4 linked regions of the Homo sapiens genome follow. The protein of the gene in region 4 purifies or fractionates together with the protein of the main gene of each other region. This does not show direct contact. Each region holds a gene or a part of one and is shown on either strand. Other genes may lie near its edges. The genes, in order: EDEM2, LMAN2L, HSP90B1 and CLU.

Region 1 (7,048 bases), on a different chromosome or scaffold from region 4:
CGCCTCAGCTTCCCAAAGCACTGGGATTAAAGGCATGAGCCACTGTGCCTAGCCGAAAAAGTTTAATTTATAAATTAGGCATGGGAAGAGATTAACAACAATAACTAATAATAAAGCAGAACAAGTATAACAATATATGTTATAGAAGTTATGTGAATTTGTCTTTTTGGTAAGAGACAGGAAAAAAAGAAATTATGTAAATTTAGTGCCTCAAAATATCTTTGTTTTTTTAGAGAGGGGGTCTTACTATATTGCCCAGGCTGGTCTCAAACTCCTGGCCTCAAACAATCCTCACTTCCAAAAAACTGGGACTACAGGCGTGAGCCACTGCACCCAGCCTCAAAATATCGTATCTGACTGTACTCACCTATTTTCAGACTGCAGTTGACCATGGATAACTGAAACCATGGAAATCAAAACTGTGGATAACGGGGGACTACTGTAGCTATAATAATAATAGTAATTAGGTGCTCAACAATTCCTCAAGATTGCTAGTGTCTAAGGGCCTGGCGGGTAAGATGTATTTATTCAACAGGTATTAATCTATTACCTACCACATGTAAAGCACTGTGGGGAACATAAGATGAGTAAGGCATGGATTCTGCATTCAATTTGTAGAGCTGTAACTGTTGATGAGAGCTAACTGCAAGAAAGATGCTGAAGGTCCCAAATTCTGTAGAAGGATCAAGCTACTTCCTGGGCAAGGCGACATTTAAGTTAGGCTTTGAAGGGTGAAAAGAATTTGGACATAGGAAGACAGGAAAAAAGACATTCTAGGCAAAGAAGATGCCATGTGCAATGGCCAGGAGATAAGAAATCCAGGGCTACATACACAGAATGCAGCACGCTTCAGTTGGCTTTTGCAAGAAGGCATCAAGTGCTGTAGTGGGCATGAAGTGGGCAGTGTAAGTCCATAGTGACTCTGAATTCAGAACTGATTCTGCAGGCACTCAGGCCAGGCGTGGTGGCTCACACCTGTGATCCCAACACTTTGGGAGGCCAAGGCGGGCAGATCACCTGAGGTCCGGAGTTTGAGACCAGCCTGGCCAACATGGTGAAACCCCGTTTCTACTAAAAATACAAAAATTAGCTGGATGTGATGGTGTGCGCCTGTAGTCCACACCATCACATGCCCAGCTACTCAGGAGGCTGAGGCATGAGAATCACTTGAACCTGGGAGGCAGAGGTTGCAGTGAGCCTAGATTGTGCCACTGCACTCCAGCCTGGGAGATGGAGCAAGACTCTGTCTCAAAAAAAAGTTTTTAAACAAATCACACATCAGCAAGAAAAATGAGGGGAAAAGCTCCCTTACTCTGCCATTTTTACCTAGGAACATGGCCATGAGCTTCTTATCCTGAAGCAGGATGGCTCCTTTCACCAAGTACTCAAAGTAGGAGTCCACGCCAGCCCCGATGCCTGCGTCCTGGGCCACCCACTTGCCAGTGAGCACATCAATGTGGTTGCCGACCTGAGAGAGAGAAAGACACACGGTCCCAACGGGAAGGCCGATGGCCAAAGAAGGATCTACTCACCCCCAACCCTGACTGCCCAGGGAGATGCAGGGCAGGTGCCCCAGTGCTTCTTGGGAAACATGCAGACCCTGAGAGGGAAGGGCAATGCTGGATCATGGCCAGCCTTCCTGTACATCTGCATAGTAGAGATGCATCTCATGCACATTTATGAGGACTTAATTATACACATTGAGCAAAAAATGAAAAAGAAAAATGATTTGGAGTGTTTATGTCCTGCCTAGAGTGAGTGTGAGATGGGAGATGAGAATTTGCTGTTGCCGCAATCTGTCTGATTTCTCAGCACCCAGCATGTGATTCCACTATCTGAAGACACAGACGTGCTTTACGTATTTCCATAAATTAACTCAATAAGAACATCCACCAAGAAGCTGACAGAGTGGTTCTAAGGAGAGAAACCGAATAGCTGGAGACAGGGGCAAAAGGGGACTTCACCAATGTCACTGAGTACCCTTTTTTGTATCCTTTGACTTTTTTTTTTTTAATTGTTCAGTCTCTGTAGAGACTGTGAAAAATTGGCAATGCCGGCCAGGCGCGGTGGCTCATGCCTATAATCCCAGCACGTTGGGAGGCTGAGGGGGGCAAAATCACTGGAGGTCAGAAGTCCGAGACCAACTTGGCCAACATGGTAAAACCCTGTCTCTAATAAAAACACAAAAATTAGCCAGGCATGGTGGTGTGTGCCTATAATCCCAGCTACTCAGGAGGCAGAGGCATGAGAATCACTTGAACCCAAGAGGGGGAGGTTGCAGTGAGCCGAGATCGTGCCACTGCACTCCAGCCTGGGCGACAGGGGGAGACTCTGTCTCAAAAAAATAAACAAAGATACGTATTTTTCTATTTTATTGTATTTATTTTATTTTTTGTATTTTTAGTAGAGACATGGTTTCTCCCTGTTGGTCAGGCTGGTCTCGAACTCCCGACCTCAGGTGATACGCCTGCCTTGGCCTCCCAAAGTGCTGGGATTACAGGCGTGAGCCACTGCGCCCAGCCAAATATATGTATTTTTCATATGGCTTAGACCCTCATGGAAGCTGGTAACTTCATCTGGTACTCAAAGAAATAGCTAACTGTTCCGCGTTGGTTTGTGTCCCCCCAGGAGCACAACCTCATTCTGCCTGAAAGTAGTTGATTTGGAAGGTAAGTCCTTGTAAACACCAGTAGAGGAGGGGGAAGTGAGGCAGGGCAAGGGAGGCGGCATTTAAGGGGTATGCCATCAGGCAGGTTTCCACCATGGGAACTGGAGTTCAATCTTGCTGGGGAGCTTAGGAATTCAGTGTAGAGCTCCAGCTTCGGAGTGATCCCACCCAAGGGGCAGGGAACTGGAATGTTTATCCACCAACTCCCATCAGTATCAGTTACCGGCTTGAGAGCTACTCATGGGTAGCATTAAATCCTGGTACCCTCAGCCAAAGGCAAGCAGAGTGGCTCCAGGCACCAGAGGAGACCCACAGGCAAAGAGGCGCAGGTGATGGCAGTTGGAAGACTGGCCAGTGTGCATGGAAATGTTAAGAGTTGAGAGGATATGGGCATGGCACCAACAGAGTCTACTACGGTCCCACTGCTGGAGCAAAACCTGCCTGAGATGGACTAAGGGATTTACTACAGGTCTCCAGCGGGGCACCTTTTTTTTTTTTTTGAGATGGAGTTTCGCTCTTGTTGCCCAGGCTGGAATGCAATGGCGCGATCTCGGCTCATCCCAACCTCCACCTCCCAGGTTCAGGCAATTCTCCTGCCTCAGCCTCCCAAGTAGCTGGGATTACAGGCATGCACCACCACGCCCGGCTAATTTTGTATTTTTTAGTAGAGATGGGGTTTCTCCATGTTGGTCAGGCTGGTCTCGAACTCCCAATCTCAGGTGATCCGCCCGCCTCAGTCTCCCAAAGTGCTGGAATTACAGGCGTGAGCCACCGCACCCAGCCTTAGGGGGGCACCTTCTTAAGGGATTTTCGGGGAGTCCTCACACAAGCTTTACTTTTCAAGCTGGATTAGCACCAGACTGCATAAAATGTGCCTAGACCTAAATGCAGTCTTCCTAAGTCAGAGTGACTCAGCAAAGTTGGTATTAATATATTAACGTTACTGCTGAAGTAACTGAGGACCAGAGAGGTTGAGTGACTTGCTCAGGGTCACACAGTTTCGATGTAGCAAGGCCAGGGCTTGAATCCAGTTCTGACTAAATCCAGTGTTATGTCCTGGATGGCTTTGGCTCAATTACTGTTAATCTTATTGATTATCCCATTTAGAAGCTGAAACTGACCTTAGAGATCATCTGGTCCAAAGTGTGTTCAATTTCCATGGGTTAATAGTACTGGAAGATAAAGGGAAGCTCTGGTGTTAAATAAGTTTGGGAAATGTTAAATTAAACAAAGTTGAATAGATTTCTTTACTAGAGGATTTTTATTCTGCTCATGTGCATTCTGACTCTCCAAAAAAGGGGGGGATATTATATCTAATATTCCCCTAACTTAATTGGCCAAGACTCATTTTTTCATGCAACTGCCACTCAGTATCTCTCAGAACCGGTGTCCTAAGAAACACAGCAAATACAGATAGACGCTAAAAATGAAGGCCGGACGAGCTGATGATCTGAAGCCGTCAAGTGAGTCAGGGGCATGAAACATACGACCCTCTTCCTAGAAATCAGAGAATCTCAACTGGTCAAAGCTGAATGCAGCCCCTGCTGCCTGCCAGAAACGTGCTTTCCCACTCTCCTCCCCACTCCAAGCCAAACTTGAATTGGAGGCTTGGTCTATTTTTGGTGTCCTGAGCCCAAATCCTGGACCACTCCCAAGGTCACCCTAAGTTTTCCTTGGCTTGACTGCAACTTATTGCTCAGAGCCCTGGGCCTCGTAAGCAGGGACTCAAACAGGAAGGGCAGCAGCGAACCTACCAGCCCGATATCTGACCGGCTCTCCCAGAGGCGCATCAAAGCCACTCTGGCCACATCTTCGAACACCGGGTCACCAGTGAGGCTGCTCAGGGTGGCAAATTCAACAATGAAGGTCCCAATCCCTGCCGTACAGGTGACAGGGGTCTCTCCTGGGTTCACGCCATGAAGTAAGTTCACTGTTCCATATGGCATGCCAGTGGGGGTCTGAAAGGCTGAACAATCGACAAATTATGATCCCGGACAGGAGCAGGGGGATAGGGATAGTTCTGATACACGCCCAAAGCCTGGGACCTTAGCCAGCACTTCCCTCTTTCTCCTGGGTATCCTGCTAGAGTCTGAGCCAGAGAAAGATAAATGTCATAACTGGAGGGCCCTGAGCAGCCACCCAGCCCAGATGCTGTCAAACACTGCTCTGCATAACCTTGGGTTCCTGCTCATCATGAGGGGGCAGGGAGCAGGCTGTGCTCCACACACACTCGCTTTAGCTAGAGAGCTTTACCTATTTTTATTTATTTTACACTACGCCTTCAAAGCCCAGGCAGGTAACTTATTGTGATGCAGGCAGGGTTTAAGCCACAGAAAGTGGTGGGGCTTGTGGCACAATGACAAGAGTAAGCCCCGTTCAAAGCCATTCATAGACTTTTGGCTCACGCCTATAATCCCAGCACTCTGGGTGGCCAAGGCAGGCAGATCACTTGAGGCCAGGAGTTCGAGACCAGCCTGGCCAACATGGTGAAACCCTATTTCTACTAAAAATACAAAAATTAGGCAAGCGTGGTGGTGCACGCCTGTAATTCTGGCTATCTGGGAGACTGAGGCACGAGAATCGTTTGAACCCAAGAGGCGTGGGCTGCAGTGAGCTGAGATTGCACCACTGCACTCCAGCCTGGGTGACAGAGCGAGACCCTGTCTCAAAATAATAATAATAATAAACAAAGCCATTCATAGACTTTAAATAAAGATCTCTGCTTTAAATAAAGAGTATAGGGGCTAAATTATTTTTAAAGGGAAGCAAAATAGGATATAAACCACTAAACCACGGATATAGTATGACCCTCGATTTATAGGTAGGGAAAACCATGCCTGTAAAGAAGTAATTCAGCCACAGGTCACACAGAGAGAGTCAAACAGAGCTGGGATGGGAACGCCTCCCCTGTGCCCACCCCAGCCCCAGTCCAGTTCTCTGCCCGCCCCACCCAAGTGGCACCCAAGTGCCTTCTGGTTCAAGACGAGAACTGGACAACCAGCCAGAGGCAGAGATTTCCTCTCTGGGCCTAAAGGTCAAACAACTCCAGAGCAGCCTATGCGTCACCAAACTGTGAACAAAGGTGTCGACACTTCCAAGAACCACAGGGTCTAGCAACTGTGTCTGCCACAGACAAGAAACTTGCAATCTGGCAGGCACCAGCGGGAGAGCAAGTCACAACCAGGAAGGGCTCTAAGCAATATTTCAGAAAAAGTCAGGCTGTAATAAAAAGAAGAGGAGTGACAAAATCCTGTTTCTTGACCTTTTTTTATAAAATGACCAATGACCAAAAATAATTAAATTATAAAGGAGGAGCAGCTAGGCAGAGTTTCCAGAGTTTCCTCCAGGGATGAATCACACAGGACACAATGTCTGCAAGGAGACGCTCAAGCCATGAGCCATGAGCCATGAGTGAGACCTGAACCTAGCTCACCCGCTATCCTCAGCTCTCCCCCAAAGGAGAGGCAAGTGCTATGTGAGAAGGATAAAGAGGCCGGGTGTGGTGGCTCACGCCTGTAATCCCAACACTTTGGGAGTCCAAGGCAGATGGATCACTTGATCCCGGGAGTTCAAGACCAGCCTGGGCAACATGGTGAAACCCCATCTCTACAAAAAAAAATTTAGCCATGCATGGTGGCATCTGCCTGTAATCCCAGCTACTCAGGAGGCTGAGGTGGGAGAATCAACTGAGCCCAGAAGTTCGAGAGGCTGCAGTGAGCCATGATCACGCCACTGCACTCCAGCCTGGGCGACAGAGCAAGACCCTGTCTGAAAAAAAAAAAAAAAAAAAAATTAAGAAAGAAAAGGGATAAATAAGTGAGATGGCCAAGAGGTGATGGAAAGCACAGTGTGACGTGTCTGGGTGTGAACAGTCCTCAGAGCCTCCACCACACCCTGAAGGGAACACAGTGTACAGTTGATGCTACTGAGCCTGGTGTTACTGCCCCACTAGACAAAAACATGGAGGCTTGACCTGCAGCCCTGGACACAGCTTAGCCACAAAACAAATCCCTCTCGTTTTAAAAGTGTTGGACGTTCTCTAAGCAGTTTCTCCTTCCTGACCTCATTTTAGCCTCTCCAAAACCCGATGTGGTAGGGAAGTAGAAATTATGATTCTCATTTGATAGATGGGGAAACCAAACTGTGGAGAGAGGCCAGACACAGTGGCTCATGCCTGTAATCCCAGCACTTTGGGAGGCCGAGGCAGCCAGATCACTTGAGGTCAAGAGTTTGAGACCAGCCTGATCAACGTGGCGAAACTTCATCTCTACTAAAAAATACAAAAATTAGCTGGGCATGGTGGCAGGCGCCTGTAATCCCAGCTACTCAAGAGGCTGAAGCAAAAGAATTGCTTGAACCCAGGAGGCGGTGGTTACAGTG
Region 2 (3,684 bases), on a different chromosome or scaffold from region 4:
TAGCCGGGCGTGGTGGTGCATGCCTGTAATCCCAGCTACTTGGGAGGCTGAGGCAGGGGAATTGCTTGAACCTGGGAGGCAGAGGTTGCAGTGAGCCGAGATCGTGCCATTGCACTCCAGCCTGGGCAACAAGAGCAAAACTCTGTCTCAAAAAAAAAAAAAAAAAAAAAAAGTCTAACTTCAGTGCATTGCAACACATCAGATATGGTTAAATGTAGGAGTTTATAATGATACTTTAAAGAGAGAAATCTAGTCCCTAATTGCTTGATCTTCTCTCTGGTAATTATTAGGGAGATTAAGAGTCACAAGTACAAGAAGCCACAGAGAAACAGGCATAGTCTAGAAGGGCAGTGTATCCCATGCCCATAGCTGTGCCCTGCCCATGGCCCATTAAACAGCGGCCATGAGACCTTTTCCTGTTGTACGTGTGTGTGTGTGCACGTGTGTGGTCTTCACCAGCGGGGAAGCTGCAGTCCTACTTTGTCTGTTCTTACTGTGCTGGAAGGTTTAACATATGGGATTTAATTGTGGTTTTATCTCCAAATTTTTTAATTATACAGATGCGTCTTGACATACAATGGCGTTATGTCCCAATAAACTCATTGTAGGTTGTAGATATTGTAAGTTGAAAATGCATTCAATACACCTACCCTACTGAACATCATAGCTTAGCCTAGTCTACCTTAAATGTGCTTAGAACATTTACATTAGCCTACAGTTGGGCAAAATCATCTAACACAAAGCCTATTCTGTAACAAAGTGTTGAATGTCTGATGTAACGTATGGAATACAGTACACGATGCAGTACTGGTTGTTTACCCTTGTGATTGTGTGGCTCACTGGGAGCTACAGCTCACTGCTGCTGCCCAGCCTCAGTACAGAGTGTTGTACTACACATCGCTAGCCTGGGAAAAGATCAAAACTCAAATTTTGAAGTATGGTTTCTGCTAAGCGCAGATTACTTTCACACCATCATAAAGTTGGAAAATTGTAAGTCGAACCATTTTAAGTCAGCGATCTTCTATACAGGTAATGCATGCTTGTTGATAAAAACTTAAATACAGAAGATATAGAATATGCCTTGTTCCCCATCCTTATTTTTAGTTGCAAAATGGAGAGGTTTCAATTATTTTTTCAAGGTCACTGCTGGTTAGCTGTGGATCAGAGGCTTGAACTAAGATACTGACTTCAAGAAACATACCTCTTTTTCAAGTGGCACAAGTCATCCTTCTTCCATTTTTCTTCAGATAATCATGATGTCATTTCCTTGAAGTTGTTTGAACTGACAGTGGAGAGAACCCCAGAAGAGGAAAAGCTCCATCGAGATGTGTTCTTGCCCTCAGTGGACAATATGAAGCTGCCTGAGAGTGAGCACAGGGGCCCGCGGGAAATGGTCCCATAGTTGGGGAGGAGCTTGCAGTGCTGTACCCATAGCTCACAGGGCGGTCTCTGCTCTGTGTTCTTCTTCTGAAGGGTAGGGAGCACTTTCATCTGCCTTTCCCCTTCAAGTTACAGATGAGCAGCAGGAGGGCCGCTTTGTTTCTCAGTTGGAAAGAGGGGGTCTAAGCTCTGGCTTCCCAGAAGTAGGTGTCAGAAACTGGGGGCCGGACAGCCTATAGTTTGATCCTTCCCTATTGGGTGGGCTCCCTGTTTTCTGACTTGCTTCTCTCTTGCTTCCTCAGTGACAGCTCCACTGCCGCCCCTGAGTGGCCTGGCCCTCTTCCTCATCGTCTTTTTCTCCCTGGTGTTTTCTGTATTTGCCATAGTCATTGGTATCATACTCTACAACAAATGGCAGGAACAGAGCCGAAAGCGCTTCTACTGAGCCCTCCTGCTGCCACCACTTTTGTGACTGTCACCCATGAGGTATGGAAGGAGCAGGCACTGGCCTGAGCATGCAGCCTGGAGAGTGTTCTTGTCTCTAGCAGCTGGTTGGGGACTATATTCTGTCACTGGAGTTTTGAATGCAGGGACCCCGCATTCCCATGGTTGTGCATGGGGACATCTAACTCTGGTCTGGGAAGCCACCCACCCCAGGGCAATGCTGCTGTGATGTGCCTTTCCCTGCAGTCCTTCCATGTGGGAGCAGAGGTGTGAAGAGAATTTACGTGGTTGTGATGCCAAAATCACAGAACAGAATTTCATAGCCCAGGCTGCCGTGTTGTTTGACTCAGAAGGCCCTTCTACTTCAGTTTTGAATCCACAAAGAATTAAAAACTGGTAACACCACAGGCTTTCTGACCATCCATTCGTTGGGTTTTGCATTTGACCCAACCCTCTGCCTACCTGAGGAGCTTTCTTTGGAAACCAGGATGGAAACTTCTTCCCTGCCTTACCTTCCTTTCACTCCATTCATTGTCCTCTCTGTGTGCAACCTGAGCTGGGAAAGGCATTTGGATGCCTCTCTGTTGGGGCCTGGGGCTGCAGAACACACCTGCGTTTCACTGGCCTTCATTAGGTGGCCCTAGGGAGATGGCTTTCTGCTTTGGATCACTGTTCCCTAGCATGGGTCTTGGGTCTATTGGCATGTCCATGGCCTTCCCAATCAAGTCTCTTCAGGCCCTCAGTGAAGTTTGGCTAAAGGTTGGTGTAAAAATCAAGAGAAGCCTGGAAGACATCATGGATGCCATGGATTAGCTGTGCAACTGACCAGCTCCAGGTTTGATCAAACCAAAAGCAACATTTGTCATGTGGTCTGACCATGTGGAGATGTTTCTGGACTTGCTAGAGCCTGCTTAGCTGCATGTTTTGTAGTTACGATTTTTGGAATCCCACTTTGAGTGCTGAAAGTGTAAGGAAGCTTTCTTCTTACACCTTGGGCTTGGATATTGCCCAGAGAAGAAATTTGGCTTTTTTTTTCTTAATGGACAAGAGACAGTTGCTGTTCTCATGTTCCAAGTCTGAGAGCAACAGACCCTCATCATCTGTGCCTGGAAGAGTTCACTGTCATTGAGCAGCACAGCCTGAGTGCTGGCCTCTGTCAACCCTTATTCCACTGCCTTATTTGACAAGGGGTTACATGCTGCTCACCTTACTGCCCTGGGATTAAATCAGTTACAGGCCAGAGTCTCCTTGGAGGGCCTGGAACTCTGAGTCCTCCTATGAACCTCTGTAGCCTAAATGAAATTCTTAAAATCACCGATGGAACCAAACATGAGCTTCTGACTGTGTTCTTTCTTCTAGGAGTGGGTTTGGGGAAAGTTCAGGCCTTTATTCTGAGCAGGCCTTTTTTTTGAGCTTCAAGCCCATCAACCGTTGTTTTGCCTTCTCCTGGGTTGGAAAAGCCCTCAGCTCAGCTCAGAAGGAAAGGGGGTCACCTTGGCTAGGCAGAGGTCTCTGTCTCTTCAGGCTTTCTTTCCTTCCCATGCACTTAAACAGCACAGGCTATAGTGCTCTCCTGCAGGTGGGATTCAGGTGGAGGCATCTTCCTCCCACCTCCCCTCCACAATAGTAGAATGGCTCCAGGGTGCCAGAGGACAAACTGACCTAGAGCTTGGCCTTGGAGCAGGGAGAACTGAAAAAGAAAATGGTGGTTTTGTCTTTTTTGAGTTGAAGGGGAGATTGTATGGACCCGTGGGAGGACCTAGGTGGGCTCTTGAGATGGCCAAGGCAGCAGTGCAGGTGGAAGGGGTCTCATCAGAGGGGAGGGGCAGAGTGAGAGAGATGGAACCTGTAGGGTTTGTA
Region 3 (7,000 bases), on a different chromosome or scaffold from region 4:
AACTTTATCAATGCTAGTTTTGCATCCTTAAGAGTTACAAGAAGGGATCAATAAAAGAAGAAGAAAAAAAAAAACAGGCAAGGAAACATAAATTTAGTAATTATTCCCAGGCATAGGATCTCACAATAAGTGTTTGATGTCATAAGCAAGCTCTTTAAAGATTATATTAAAAGCCACTTAACAACATGATTTCATGTTTTACGGGTTTTGTGGTGGAAATCACACATCTACCTATGTAGGTGGTTCTTAATCTTTTTTTGTCACACAAAACCCTTGGCAAGCTGGTGAAGGCTACAGATGCCTTCTCAAAATAATTTTTTTAAAAAAATCACATATTACAAAATACACAGGAATAAAAAGGAAACCAATTGTGTTTAAACAGCCATAAAACTGTTTCAAACATTCTTGATTTTGTAGTTTCACTATTCACTAAGAGCTAGGACTAATTTTAATAACTGCTGCAATTTTGAAGTAGTGATGAGTATAATAATTCAACTTAAGTAAAAATGGTGTGTTCTGGAAACCAATTACTCTCAAAGACCATCTCTACTGAGGTGTCAATCTCAAAGGTTCATAAATGTGATTTTAATTGTGACTAGGTCAATAAACCAGAAGTAGACATATTATAGTTGGCCTAAAGGTCTTTTTTTGAATTTTCTCACTGGGAAAAAATGGGAATGGACCATCTCATATTCATGGTCACATACCATATACAATTAAACTAAGAGGGTGATATTTTGTCTATTCATTAATAACCAGAAACTAGGGAATTATAAATATTTACCTTTGAAAATGATTTGTAGAAAGCTTTGTATTCATCTTCTTCTACTTCTTTTGATGGTCTCTGCCATATTGGTTTGATATCATTCATAAGTTCCCAGTCCCAGACAGTTTTTTCAACCTGAAGTTATTATAGTATTTGATTAGTCTCTCTCAGCACTCACCAAGGTTATCCTAGCAGTAACCATGGCTTCAGTAGATTTCAAAAGACTATGTAAAGACCCAGAGGACTGGTGTGGTGGCTCACGCCTGTAATCCTAGCACTTTGGGAGGTTAGGGTAGGAGAACTGTTTGAGCCTAGGAGTTCAAGACCAGTCCAGGCAACATAGCAAGACCTCCAACTATACAAAAAATTTTTAAAACTTAGCCAGTCATGGTGGCGTGTGTCTGTGGTCCTAGCTACTTGGGAGGCTGAGGTGAAAGGACTGCTTAAGCCTAGGAGTTCAAGGATGAAGGGAGCTATGATCGTGCTACCACACTCCAGCCTGGGTGGCAGAGACTCTGTCTCCAAATTAAAGAAAAAAAAAAAAAGGGCACCAAAGGATACCTGTTATCTAGTAAGGTTTCTGCCAACTGTATCAAAAGCAAAGTATTTTTCTCAATATTTAATTCAAAAAGACAATTGTTAACTGATGAAAAGCCACTTAAGTTTTTCTTCATTGTTATTTTTTAACTAGCAAAAATGTTTCTTGAAAATATTTGTTTTGAGGTTAGAAGGAAATACATATTATATATTCCCATTTCATGACTTAAAGAAATCCAACATTTTACAAAAATATTTCTCAACCACCATGATCAATACTTCTTAGTCTGCTACCTAAGCAAGCCAGAGAACCATTTTTATGGTTAATCTCTGCATGATAAAAAGACAAAAGAGGACTCAGAAGGCTTTTTAAGATTTTAAAATTCCAAACATATAAGCCACCAGTCCTAGGCAATATATAAAAGTTAGAAAACTCTTCATAAAAATGACCTGGGTTTGATACTTAAAACTTTCTACAGGACAATGTATTCAACATACAAACAAAGGCCTTATTTTAAAAGCTGGCTCCATGGACTTAGCACCTGAACTGAAGCTGACTTCAAATCAGCCAGTGCATACTTAGGTTTTCCTGGTTTTGCCTATACATGTTAAACAATATCTTATGCAGGGAGATAAACCAGACTTACTTTTTTAGTCTTTGGTTTCTTTTCTTCTTCTTCTTCCTCTACTGCAGCTTCATCATCAGATTCTTCTTTCTCTTCTTTGGCTGCTTCTTCTTCCTCCATGGGCTCCTCAACAGTTTCAGTCTGTTGAAATAAGAGAATTATGGTTAAACTCATTTGTTTAACAATTCTGATTTTGTCTACAGAATATGATATAACATTACAGGTCAAAAAATAGGTTTTTGTAAGAAAACCCTGAGAGTATCCTTAACTAATAGACCACATTTTGCCTTCATTCTTTTTTTTTTTTTTTGAGACAGAGTCTTGCTTTGTCACCTAGGCTGGAGTGCAGTGGGGCGATCTTGGCTCACTGCAACCTCCGTCTCCCGGGTTCAAGCAATTCTCCTGCTTCAGCCTCCCGAGTAGCTGGGATTACAGGCGTGTGCTACCACACACCCAGCTAACATTTTTGTATTTTTAGTAGAGACAGGGTTTCGCCATGTTGGCCAGGCTGGTCTCGAACTCCTGACCTCAGGTGATCCACCTGTCTCGGCCTCCCAAAGTGCGGGGATTACAAGCATGAGCCACCGCGCCGGCCTGCCTTCATTCTTTTAGTGTTGAATATTTAAATACGTGCCAAGGTAATACATATAAGTTTTTAATCAATATAGATTTACCTTGCTGCTCCATACATAAATAGGAAAGTTTATGAACTGTGAATATTTTTTGACGAGATTTTTAATTGTATCCAATTCAAGGTAATCAGATGCTTCTTCTTTTAAGACAAGGCTGCAAGAAAAATTCGATGTTTAGAGACACCTAACATTTAGAAGATCTGATTATAAATTCATTTAAATACCATGGTAATAGCCAGCAGTTCAGTATAATCCAAGATGTCCTAATTATTCATGTTAACTCTCCATCACCAACAAGGGTTTGTGAGCTAAAATGTAACACATGTAGATACAGTAAAGAGAAGAATCTCCTCTACATTACCTCAAGTGGAGAATAACCTTAGTTTTAAGTAGAAAATTAAAATATTCCCAACCGTCTGAATAGATTGTTTTCATTTTTCAAGGTGAGAAAGCACTGAAATATTCTGGAGAGAAATGGAATCATGCACTCTCATAGCTCTTACTGTTATTCCAGAAACCTAATGATTATTGTAGATAACTATTCCTAATTAATGAAAACATTTTCCTTAAAAAAGCTAGAAAATTAATCTGGTTTATATTTATATCTGCACTATCCAAAATGGCAGCCACTGGGCACATGTGACTTATTTAAATAAAATGTACAGTTCAGTTCCAGTTATGCTGCCACATTCCAAGTACTCAACAGTCACATGTGGCTGGTGATCGCCAAAATGGAAAAGTGCAGATATAGAACATTTCTACTATTATATAAAATTCTACCGGGCAGTGCGGGGATTACAGGTGTGAGCCACTGTGCCCGGCCTAGAACCTACTCTTAAGCACAGTAGGTAGTCCATATCTTGATACTTGTGTTCCCAATTAAGTATGGGAAATGGTCTATCTATGGTTCCCTCCCTGTCTCAAAAGGCTCATTAGTTTAGTGGTACCTGGCCAATAAGTAGCCATGATATGACAAAGCCTAGTGAGTGACTAGGCCCCTGGTCTCAGAGCACATGTTCTAGTGATTTGGGGATTAAGAGTTCAGTTTTGGATGCAAGTAGAAGCTGCTGGTTAGATATCTTAGGTAGAAGCATTTAAAAGGCAATTAAACACATGAACACAGAGCCCAGTAGTGAGACCTAGACAAGGGGCTGGCAAGCTATAGCTGTACAGCTGGCACCCATTAGAAATTTTATTGGGACACTTTTTTTTTTTTTTTTTTTTTTGGACCTCTGTCACCCAGGCGTGATGATGGCTCACTGCAGCCTTGACCTGCCAGGCTCAAGCAATCCTCCTACCTCAGCCTCCTGAGTAGCTGGGACTACAGGCATGCACCACTGTGCCAAGCTAATTTTTTATTTTTTATTTTTGTGGAGATGGGATCCCATTATGTTGTCCAGGCTGACCTCAAACTCCTGGGTTCAAGTGATCCTCCCACCTCAGCCTCCCGAGGTGCTGGGATTATAGGGATGAGCCACCACACTTGGCTGGGACACATCCTTATGTATTGTCTATGCCTGCTTTCAAGCTAAACAGAGTTGGGACATGTGACAGACCATATAGCTCACAAGCTAAAAATATTTACTAGCTGGCTCTTTCTTTCTTGTTGTTTTCTTTTATCTTTTTTTCTACTAGCTGGCTCTTTTAAGAAAAAGTTTGCTAACTCCTGATCTAGGCTAAGAATATAAATTTGAGAACTAGAGATGGAACCTGAGGCCGTGGCAGTGGATAAGACTACATAAAGATCACATGGACAATGAGAAAAGGGCTGAAACTTAACTTGGAGAAAATGTATGTTAACATTTAAGAAGTGGGCAAAGGAAATTTTTAAAAAGATATGCATGGTCATGGAAACTAGGTCCTGGATAGGTGTTAGCAGCCATCGTTCCCTGCATGGAACTGTCCTGTTTAACCTCACTTATTCATACAAATGGCTGCCAATTAAGTGTTAAGCTTTGGGAATGGAGCTTCCAACAAAATGTTTGCCTTCATGGAGCTTATATCCAGATAATTTCACCTGCTTCTTAGCAACCTGACATTAACATCTCTTGGGACATCACTTTCTATCTTTCCTTGGGAATGATTGCCCTATCCTTCTCCAACATCTAGCCCAGTGCTTAAAAAGAGAGGGCACTGGGGCATAACTCTTAGTGATGCCTCCAAATGAAACCTGGAGACATCAATGTTAGTGACGAAGGCAGGGGAAGGTAAATTGGGAACACAAGTTAAAAAAGTACTAAAATGCAGTCATCTAATTAGTCTTCATTAAAAGAACATCTGCTGCAGTAAAAACAGGAAATGTTACTTTCTAGGATGAAGAAAGTTGGTCACAATGATAAGTATGTGCTTCTTTCCCTTAATGTTAAGAAAACTTAAAACTGAATTAAGAAAAAAAAATTGAAGCTGTGGGCACATTCTGTTACTCACTTAGCAGGAGTTGGCAAGCCAACTGACCTCTGAAATAGAATTTCCTCATCTCCAAGATGGTAAAATTTTAAAAAGGCAAAAAGCTGCCCTGTCTACGTCACAGTGCTATAAGCAACGAGAGCTACTGTAGGGCACTGGCTCTGTCTCACCCATACAAACAACAGTTACTGGCTTAAGAGGGATCTTAATTCAAATTTAAAAACTTGTAACTATCCTTAAATGACGTATTTTATTCCACAGCTTTCACAACTTTCATGAACTTTCTTTAAGCCCTTTATCTCTACAAGCCAGCCCCAGCCCTGGTTGCTACCACTCATCTTGAATATTTTCAAGAGGAATATTTCCCCCAAAGAGTCTCCCCTTGTCCACTCCTCACATCCTCCACACCACCTTGAGAATCTTAAAAAGTTCATCACATTCTGGCTGGGCACGGTAGCTCATGCTTGTAATCCCAGCACTTTGGGAGGCCGAGGTGGGTGGATCACGTGAGGTCGGGAGTTCGAGACCAGCCTGGCCAACATGGAGACACCCCATCTCTACTAAAAATACAAAATTAGCTGGGCGTGGTGGCACATGCCTGTAATCCCAGCTACTTGGGAGGCTGAGGCAGGAGAATTGCTTGAACCCAGGAAGCGGAGGTTGTGGTGAGCCAAGATTGTGCCATTGCACTCCAGCCTGGGCAACAAGAGTGAGACTCCGTCTCAAAATAAATAAATAAATAAAAGTTCATCACATTCTATCCATAACTGCCACCGAAAAGAACTCTGTTCATCTAGTGAGCATGCTATGCCTCCATGCCTTTATTCAGGATGCTCCACAGACAAATTACTCTTCTAACCTGGGAAACTGACCAAGCAGTGCCTCCTCTGTGGGTACCCAAGAAGCCTTCTCCCTTGGGGAAGCTGCTGCTATTTCCTACTTTATACCCTCCATGTACAACAGCAATCACAAACCTTTGTGCCTGGCCCTTTGCAGGTCCTCAAACATTTCTTCAAGTGACAACAGTTCTGTTTCCTCATTTTATAAGGCAGGAAAATTAAGGCCCAGAATAAGTCATTTGCTCAGAGAATAGAACTGGAGAGTCAAGATCCTCACCATGACTATTAATTCTTATAAGGAATTGGTCATACTCACGTAATTGTCGTTCCCCGTCCTAGAGTGTTTCCTCTTGGGTCAGCAATTACAGAAAATTCATTGGAGTCAGACTCCCAGATGTGCTGGGTATCGTTGTTGTGTTTTGAAGTGACAATAACCTTATCTGCTACAAGGAAGGCGGAATAGAAACCGACACCAAACTGGCCAATCAATTCAGAAGTTGACTGGCCATCTTCCTGTGCTTCAGTCATTTTGTTTAAAAACTCGCTTGTCCCAGATTTGGCTATGGTACCAAGGTTTTTAACCAACTCTTCTCTGGTCATTCCTACACCGGTGTCTGTGACATGCAGCAGGTTCTTCTCCTTATCACACTAAATGCAAGACAAGAACCAGATAGTTGTATTTAATATTTACATTATGCCAAACAAATATTGAGGAACTAACCAGCTTTGGGTCCCATCAATTCCAATACAGAAAACTAAACTGAGATATTTTCCTCCACATAGTTTTTTATGGCCTTTTCTGAAAGTGTACATCTTAAAGTAATTTATGTATTTGAGAAAGTATTAATATCAAATGGGCAGACTGGCCTAAATGTCAAAGGTTAGAGGCTGACCTAAATAAAACAAGTTACCTTTGAAGGAAAACAATTCAAGAAAAATAAAATTTTATGTCTTGCCTATTTCTTTACTAGAATACAAAACAACTTGAATGATTCCTCTATTTGGAATCTGTGATGGATCATTAATATTCTTCACTCAATATTCCTGGCTGTCTGCCTTCCAGAAACTTAGGAGTACTCTACTTTCCATTTAAGAATGGCTAAGGCCATGTGACTAGTTTTGGCCAATGAGTTATAAATGGCCAATGAGTTGTAAAGGAGAGCTCTGTTTTCAGGCTGAGCCTTTAATTATAAT
Region 4 (7,048 bases):
AGTGTATTCCTTTAGGAGATTGTCGCACCTTGGTCAGAATACATCGACAGTTTTATAATAGAACAGAAAAGCTTCCATTTGCAGCAATATATTTTAGTTGGCTTGTTGAAACACATCTCTCTTCCTGAAAGCAAGCAATTCTTGAAGTGGATCAACCTTGTCATCATATCCCTTTTATTCTTCACCCTTTTATTCTTCACTGGTATGACAGTCCCTATACCATCTTAGCCACTGCTTTTTTGTTTCTACTTATTTTCCATCCCCCCTGCCTGCCCCCCATAGCAAAATGAAGGCATGCCGGGAAGCAGCAACTCAACATAAAAAGAGGACCCTCCAAGCGATCAGCTCACAAGACAGTTTTATTGAATTAGTTGCATGCAGGAGCAATTCTGTTCTTCCCATGAGCAGCAGAGTCGAGTGTTAGAGTGCAGGATCCAGAGCGGGGAGAGGCTGGGCGGAGTTGGGGGCCTGGAGGCTGGGGCCTGGTTACTTGGTGACGTGCAGAGCTCTCTCTGGGGGGCTGCAGCTCATCTTGGGGGGAGCTGGACTCAGATGCCCCCGTAGGTGCAAAAGCAACATCCACATCTCACTCCTCCCTGAAATAAAAAACAGTTATCCTCCAAAGTAAAACATCCTCCAAAGGAAAAATAAAATTCCCCCGTAACTTCCTGGCTTTGTTCTTGGGCTCTGGCTCCGGGCGGAGTCGTTCCCACCAGGCTATAGAGTCTGCACTTTGTTTGTTTTTTTGTGGCTCCCAGAGACTCACTGGGCCCTGCAGGCCCGCAGGAAAGGCCCGCCTGCTTACCGGTGCTTTTTGCGGTATTCCTGCAGCGCTTTCTCCGCCACGGTCTCCATAAATTTAGGGTTCTTCCTGGAGACTTCTACAGGGACCGTCACAGTGATGGGATCAGAGTCAAAGAGCTTCACGACCACCTCAGTGACACCGGAAGGAACGTCCGAGTCAGAAGTGTGGGAAGCCACCTAAATGGAACAAGAGAAAAGGGAAGAGCTGAAACACTGTGGTCAAAATGCATGCGCTCTGCAACAGAAGTCAGGCTTCTGATAAGGAAGTCCTCCTGCTTCTCCAAGGAAACCTAGAGAGCTGACCCCATGCTTCTTATACATCTAGACGTAAGTACAGCTCAGTGGACAGAACGGACCTGGTTCACAGACACTCATGTGTTGGGGCAAATGTCATCTGCAAATGACCAGCCCAGGGAGCACCCCAAAGAATAAAAGTGGTTTCCAAACATTTGCTTTAGAAGCAGCCCTTGGTCAGAGTAGGGTAGAAAAGGAATCCAGAGGGCCTGGAGGGAAGAAAGAAAAGAAAAAGAAGAGTTCCCAGTACTAGAAATAAGTTTTATTTGATTTTTTAACTTTATTTTATTATTTTATATATATATATTTTTTAAGAGACAGAGTCTCACTCTGTCACCCAGGCTGGAGTGCAGTGGCGTGATCACAGCTCACTGCAGCCTCCACTTCAGGGCTCAGGCAATCCTCCCACCTCAGCCTCCTGAATAGCTGGGACTACAAGTGTGTGCCACCACACCTGACTGATTTTTGTATTTTTTGTAGAGAGGGAATCTTGCTGTGTTGCCCAGGCTGGTCTCAAATTCCTGGCCTCAAGCAATCCTCTTGCCTCTGCCTCCCAAAGTGCTGGGATTACAGGCATGAGCCACCATGTCTGGCCTAGAGAGAAGTTTTTATCACTGGCAGAGAGTGATGTACTAATTCATAAGCCATTTTACATGCCAGAGGGCAGCCTTGTAGCTTTGAGAAAAGAACAGAGGCTTCTGGTTTATTCACAGATTTGTGCACCAAAACAAAAACAACAACAACAAAATACAGGCTTGGCAGCCAGGCAGTCAGGTTCAAATACCCGTCCAAGTCATCTGTCAGCTATCACACCTTGGCCAAGCTGTGGAACCTCTCTTACTTTGCTCCTTTGTAAAGCAGGGTTATATTTTCCCTGAGTGGGTGATGAGGCTTCAAGGCAACAGGGGCGCCTAAAGTTTTCTATTTTCTGCCGTGTGATAAATGCTCAGTCAAAAGCACACATGCCCCTGCTCCCGATCACAGCTCGGGCTCCCGAGCCACAGCATGTGGCCGGGACACAGCTCACCGTGGTGACCCGCAGATAGTACTGGTCTTCGCCTTGCGTGAGGTTTGCCAGCCGGGACACCCAGTTAAACTGCTCGTTCAGCTGCTCCAGCAAGGAGGAGGTGTTGAGCATCTTCCACTGGTAGGACTTTAGCAGCTCGTTGTATTTCCTGGTCAACCTCTCAGCGACCTGGAGGGATTCGTCGAGCTCCCGCCGCAGCTTAGCCTGGGAGGGGTTGTTGGTGGAACAGTCTGCCCAGAGATGGAAGAAACGCAAGTGAGAAGTGTGAAGGGAAGGCTACAAAGGGATAGAACCATGAATGAATGGAAGTTAGCACATGCAGCGGGAACAAAAGCAGTGCTTCCCTAAGGGAAGGGCCACAAACTGGAATTGTCCACGACAAAATAAAGGTTTTGCCTCAGAATGTGAATCTAGACACTGCTTCCGTCATCCAGAAAGTCTTTTGGGTTTTTTGTTTTTGTTTTTGTTTTTTTGAGACAGAGTTTTGCTCTGTTGCCTAGGCTGGAATACAGTGGTGAGATCTCGGCTCACTGCAGCCTTGACTTCCCAGGCTCAGGCTGTCCTCCAACCTCAGCCTCCTGAGTAGCTGGGACTATAGGCACATGCTACCATGCCCAGCTAATTTTTGTATTTTTTGTAGACACGGGGTTTCTCTGTGTTGTCCAGGCTGGTCTCGAACTCCTGGGCTCAACCCATCTGCCCAAAAAGTGCTGGGATTACTGGTGTGAGCCACCACGCCCAGCCTGAGAAGCCTTGCTCTGGAAAAATACGCCAACTGACCTAAACAGTGTGCTTCGTAACATCATTGATTTATCTTTGGGTGCCAGACCCTTATCTCTTTGGTGACAAACTGTGTTGACCACACTTCCAAAAGCACTGATCTCAAGTTCTCCATGTTCTCAGACCTGGAGTGGCTCTCGTTGCCCTAGTCCCTCCCGGGAATCATTTCCAGAGAGGAGGAATATTACTCACAGCTGCCATTCGTGTGGCACTGCCTTCGTCCCAGACACCGCAGAAAGTTCTCTCTGGATATCCTTTTTCTCTAAGAATTGGATCTGTTCTGACTTAAGGATTAGGACTTAAGTCCTAATTTTACCAATAATGAAATAATTTTTACCAATAATGAAACTGAGGCCCACAGAAGTATCAATAAATAGCTTACCTAAAGCCATAGAATAAATGATCTCTGGGCCCGGGATTGAACCAGGGTCTTCAGCTCCTAAGCTTGGGCTTTTCCTACCCTGGATCTGTGGTTCTGGACAATCCTCCAAGCTTGTCTTTTTTTTGAGACAGAATTTCGCTCTTGTTTCCCAGGCTGGAGTGCAATGGCGCGAGCTCAGCTCACTGCAACCTCCACCTCCCGGGTTCAAGCAATTCTCCTGCCTCAGCCTCCAGAGTAGTTGGGATTACAGGTGCCTGCCACCACCCCCGGGTGATTTTTTTGTATTTTTAGGAGAGACAGGGTTTCACCATGTTGGCTAGGCTGGTCTCAAACTCCTGACCTCAGGGGTCCACCCACCTCGGCCTCTCAAGGTGCTGGGATTACAGGTGTGAGCCAATGCACCCGGTCCAAACTTGTCTTTTGAGCATGTCTGTAGAGGTGGCAGTTCTGGTGCCAGGAGTTCATGCAGCTGATGCACTGGCACCTGGTGGCCAGGGGTCCTTGCCTGCCCACCTGCCCGCCCATGGCTGGTCAGTGAGTTCATCAAGAGAGCAGGGAAAAGAGAATTCATTCCTCTTGGCCCTGGGCTGCAGGTTGTCAGATTCATTAAGACCTGGAAACTGTCCACTAGCTCTTAAAACTACTGTTTTTCTCCCCCTAAGGTATTTCAAAAATATCCAGAGGCAGGTACATCAAACGTGAGTCAGGGGAAGGGAGATTTTGCATATGCTTTAGGATGATGACTGCAATCATTTATAGTAAACAAAATGTTAGGTGGGGAAAGAAACAGAATTACTAACAAGATGCCAGTTTGAAAATAAATATGTAATAAATAAACTTCATTATTTTACCAAAAAAAAATTTAAAAATAAGAAAAACTAGCTCACACCTGTAATCCCAGCACTTTGGGAGGCTGAGGCAGGCTGATCACTTGAGGTCAAGAGTTTGAGACCAGCCTGGCCAATATGGTGAAACCCTGTCTCTACTAAAAATATAAAAATTAGCCAGGCGTGGCGGTGCACGCCTGTAATCCCAGCTACTCAGGAGGCTGGGGCAGGAGAATCGCTTGAACCCAGGAAGCAGAGGTTGCAGTGAGCAAAGATTGCGCCACTACGCTCCAGCCTGGGTGATAGAGCGAGACCCTGTCTTAAAAAAATAATAATAAAATAAGAAAAATCCTTGAGAGCTGAGGCTTAGTCTAGAATAGAGGTTCTCTACTGGGGTGACGCTGTCACCCAGGGAGATTTAGCAAGTTCTGAAGCTGGTTGTCACAACAAAGGGAAGGGAGCTGCTGACCTCTAGTGGGCAGAGGCCAGGAATGCTGCCAAACACCCTGAACTGCTCAGGACAGCCCCCAACGACAAAGAATGACCTGGTCCAAAATGTCAGCACTGCTCACACCTGTAATCCCAGCACTCTGGGAGGCTGAGGTAGGAGGATCACTTGAGCCCAGGAGTTAGAGACCAGCTTGGGCAATGTAGCAAGACCCCATCTCTACTAAAAATAAAAAAATTAGCCAAGCATGGTGGAGCACACCTGTAGTCTGTTACTCAGGAGGCTGAGGCAGGAGGATGACTTCAGCCCAAGAGGTCTAGGCTGCAGTGAGCTGTAATGGTGCCACTGCACTCCAGGCTGGGTGATAGAGAGAGACCCTGTCTCAAAAAAAAAAAAAAAAATCAACAGCGCTGAAATTGAGAAATCCTCATCTAGAGTTCCCAGGCAGTACGTGCTTATATGGTTGCAAGCACCTTAAATAACAGTAGGCAGTCCTCTTCAGTGTAGACTATTTAGCTCAGCTTAGAGAATTATTCTTACCAATAATTCTCTAAGAATCTATCTCAGGTCAGGCACAGTGGCTCACACCTGTAATCCCAGAACTTTGGGAGGCCGAGGCGGGCAGATTACTTGAGGTCAGGAGTTCAAGACCAGCCTGGCCAACATAGTGAAATGCTGTCTCTACTAAAAATACAAAAATTAGCTGGGTGTGGTGGTGCACACCTGCACTCCCAGCTACTTGGGAGGCTGAGGCAGGAGAATCACTTGAACCCAGGAGGCGGAGGTCGCAGTGAGCCGAGATAGAGCCACTGTACGCCAGCTATAATCAATGACTGATAAGACTGGCGCTGGCTGCACTCTCAACTGTAATCAATGACTGTTAAGATTGGCGCCAGACCTGAGCCCAGCCTGGGCAACAGAGTAAAAATCAGCATAAGAGGTCCAATCTGGGCACAGGCATCTGGACATCTTTTCTCAGACCCTAACATGACTTTCTTGTGGTGAGGTACCATGTAATTGATGCCACTCTATGATATTTTTTATAGAAAAAGCCCCAAGGCCTGGTTGTGCACTCATCTACAGCAACTTATACTTCAGCCTGTTAAAGCACAACTGTTTATTTTGCAGTGGCTTCTAAAATTATAGGAGTGAGGCTAGGAATGTTTAACTAGACCCTGGCGGCCTGCCATGGCAAACTCAAACTAAGCATTAAGTAAGAGCAAAGCCACCAGATCGATAAGCTGTTGACAAGGGGAAACAATTAACTCTTTGTGAGTATGAACTGCTGTGTACCAGGAACTAGTCCAAATACTGTCACAGCTGTTATCTCTAAGTGGAAAGAAGTTAACCCATAACCAGAGCTGGTGAAACGGAGGGGGACAGTTAAAGGGAAATATTCCCTTTGCCTAGGGGACCAACCAACCGACCAAAGGGACTATTGCTTGGATGCCCAGGTACTGAGACCCGTGACTTCTGTGGCCAGAGGCTGCGAGGGGCCCCAGGAGAGAACACAGCGCCCTAGGATTGAAGCCCAGCTCGCCCATGTCGGGGTCAATCTTGGATAAGTTATTAACCTTTCTGTGGCTCAGTTTCCTCAGAGGGTCATTCTGAGGAAATGAGGAAATGTATGTCGAGTGTTTAGAACAGTGCCTGGCCTCTGGTCAGTTTTGTTAAACAAAACACATACTGTCTGCAATGTCATAATCTGCAGAGGAAAATGAAGATGCCTACTGCGCTTGGCGCTTGGGAACAGAATCACCGGGGAGTCCCAGGGGGATGACTTTTTTCAACAAGCTTTTTTCAACATGGGGCCGACCAGGTGGAGGGCACTTTTGCATCTCTAACGACATCTCACCGACTTCAGGGACAGCCTCGCATCATCATCTCATTCTAAGATGAGGAACCGAAGCTGCATGAGGCTCAGGACCTGCCCCGGGACACAGCTCAAAGGCTGCAGAGCTGGAATCCAAACGCTTATCTGTCTGACTCCATAAAGGCAGCACCAGTGAGGCCCCAGTGACCCCAGGACACAAGGGATCAGGGGGGACGGCTTGTGGTCTGGACCCCGACTCACCCACAGACAAGATCTCCCGGCACTTGTCACACTGGTCCTTCATCCGCAGGCAGCCCGTGGAGTTGTGGCGGATCTCCCGGCACACAGTCCGGTCATCGTCGCCTTCTGGGGACACACGAGGGAAGAAGAGTCAGTCATCCAGCCATGCAGAGATGGACTCCACTGATTCCTATTGTTATTTTTATTTATTTTTTAATTTACAGACAGGGTCTCACTCTGTTGCCCAGGCTGGAATGCAATGGTGCAATCATAGCTCACTGCAGCCTCCAACTTCCAGGCTCAGGTGACTCTCTTGCCTCAGCCTCCCGAGTAGCTGAGACTACAGGTGTGCACCACCACACCCGGCTAATTTTTTAAGTTTTTATTTTTGTAGAGACAGGGTCTCACTATCTTGGCCAGGCTGGTCTCAAAC

The links.
Region 1: the proteins of CLU (region 4) and EDEM2 purify together in Homo sapiens (affinity purification with mass spectrometry; 2 studies listed by BioGRID and IntAct, with this or other methods). This does not show direct contact.
Region 2: the proteins of CLU (region 4) and LMAN2L purify together in Homo sapiens (co-immunoprecipitation; 3 studies listed by BioGRID and IntAct, with this or other methods). This does not show direct contact.
Region 3: the proteins of CLU (region 4) and HSP90B1 purify together in Homo sapiens (affinity purification with mass spectrometry; 2 studies listed by BioGRID and IntAct, with this or other methods). This does not show direct contact.

Annotation. Positions count from the first base shown.
Region 1 is NC_000020.11:35,130,316-35,137,363, forward strand, and holds part of EDEM2 (ER degradation-enhancing alpha-mannosidase-like protein 2 isoform 1 precursor), read right to left. Parts: intron 4,635-7,048; coding exon 4,423-4,634; intron 1,469-4,422; coding exon 1,327-1,468; intron 1-1,326. Other genes in the region: MMP24-AS1-EDEM2 (ER degradation-enhancing alpha-mannosidase-like protein 2), read right to left, coding at 1,327-1,468, 4,423-4,634. UniProt on the Homo sapiens protein: Involved in the endoplasmic reticulum-associated degradation (ERAD) pathway that targets misfolded glycoproteins for degradation in an N-glycan-dependent manner.
Region 2 is NC_000002.12:96,705,397-96,709,080, reverse strand, and holds the end of LMAN2L (VIP36-like protein isoform 2 precursor), read left to right. Parts: intron 1-1,247; coding exon 1,248-1,367; intron 1,368-1,682; coding exon 1,683-1,825; 3' UTR 1,826-3,152; downstream 3,153-3,684. UniProt on the Homo sapiens protein: May be involved in the regulation of export from the endoplasmic reticulum of a subset of glycoproteins. May function as a regulator of ERGIC-53.
Region 3 is NC_000012.12:103,933,410-103,940,409, reverse strand, and holds part of HSP90B1 (endoplasmin precursor), read right to left. Parts: intron 6,455-7,000; coding exon 6,123-6,454; intron 2,716-6,122; coding exon 2,604-2,715; intron 2,071-2,603; coding exon 1,951-2,070; intron 902-1,950; coding exon 785-901; intron 1-784.
Region 4 is NC_000008.11:27,597,655-27,604,702, forward strand, and holds part of CLU (clusterin isoform 1 preproprotein), read right to left. Parts: intron 6,742-7,048; coding exon 6,637-6,741; intron 2,356-6,636; coding exon 2,126-2,355; intron 982-2,125; coding exon 806-981; intron 597-805; coding exon 587-596; 3' UTR 1-586.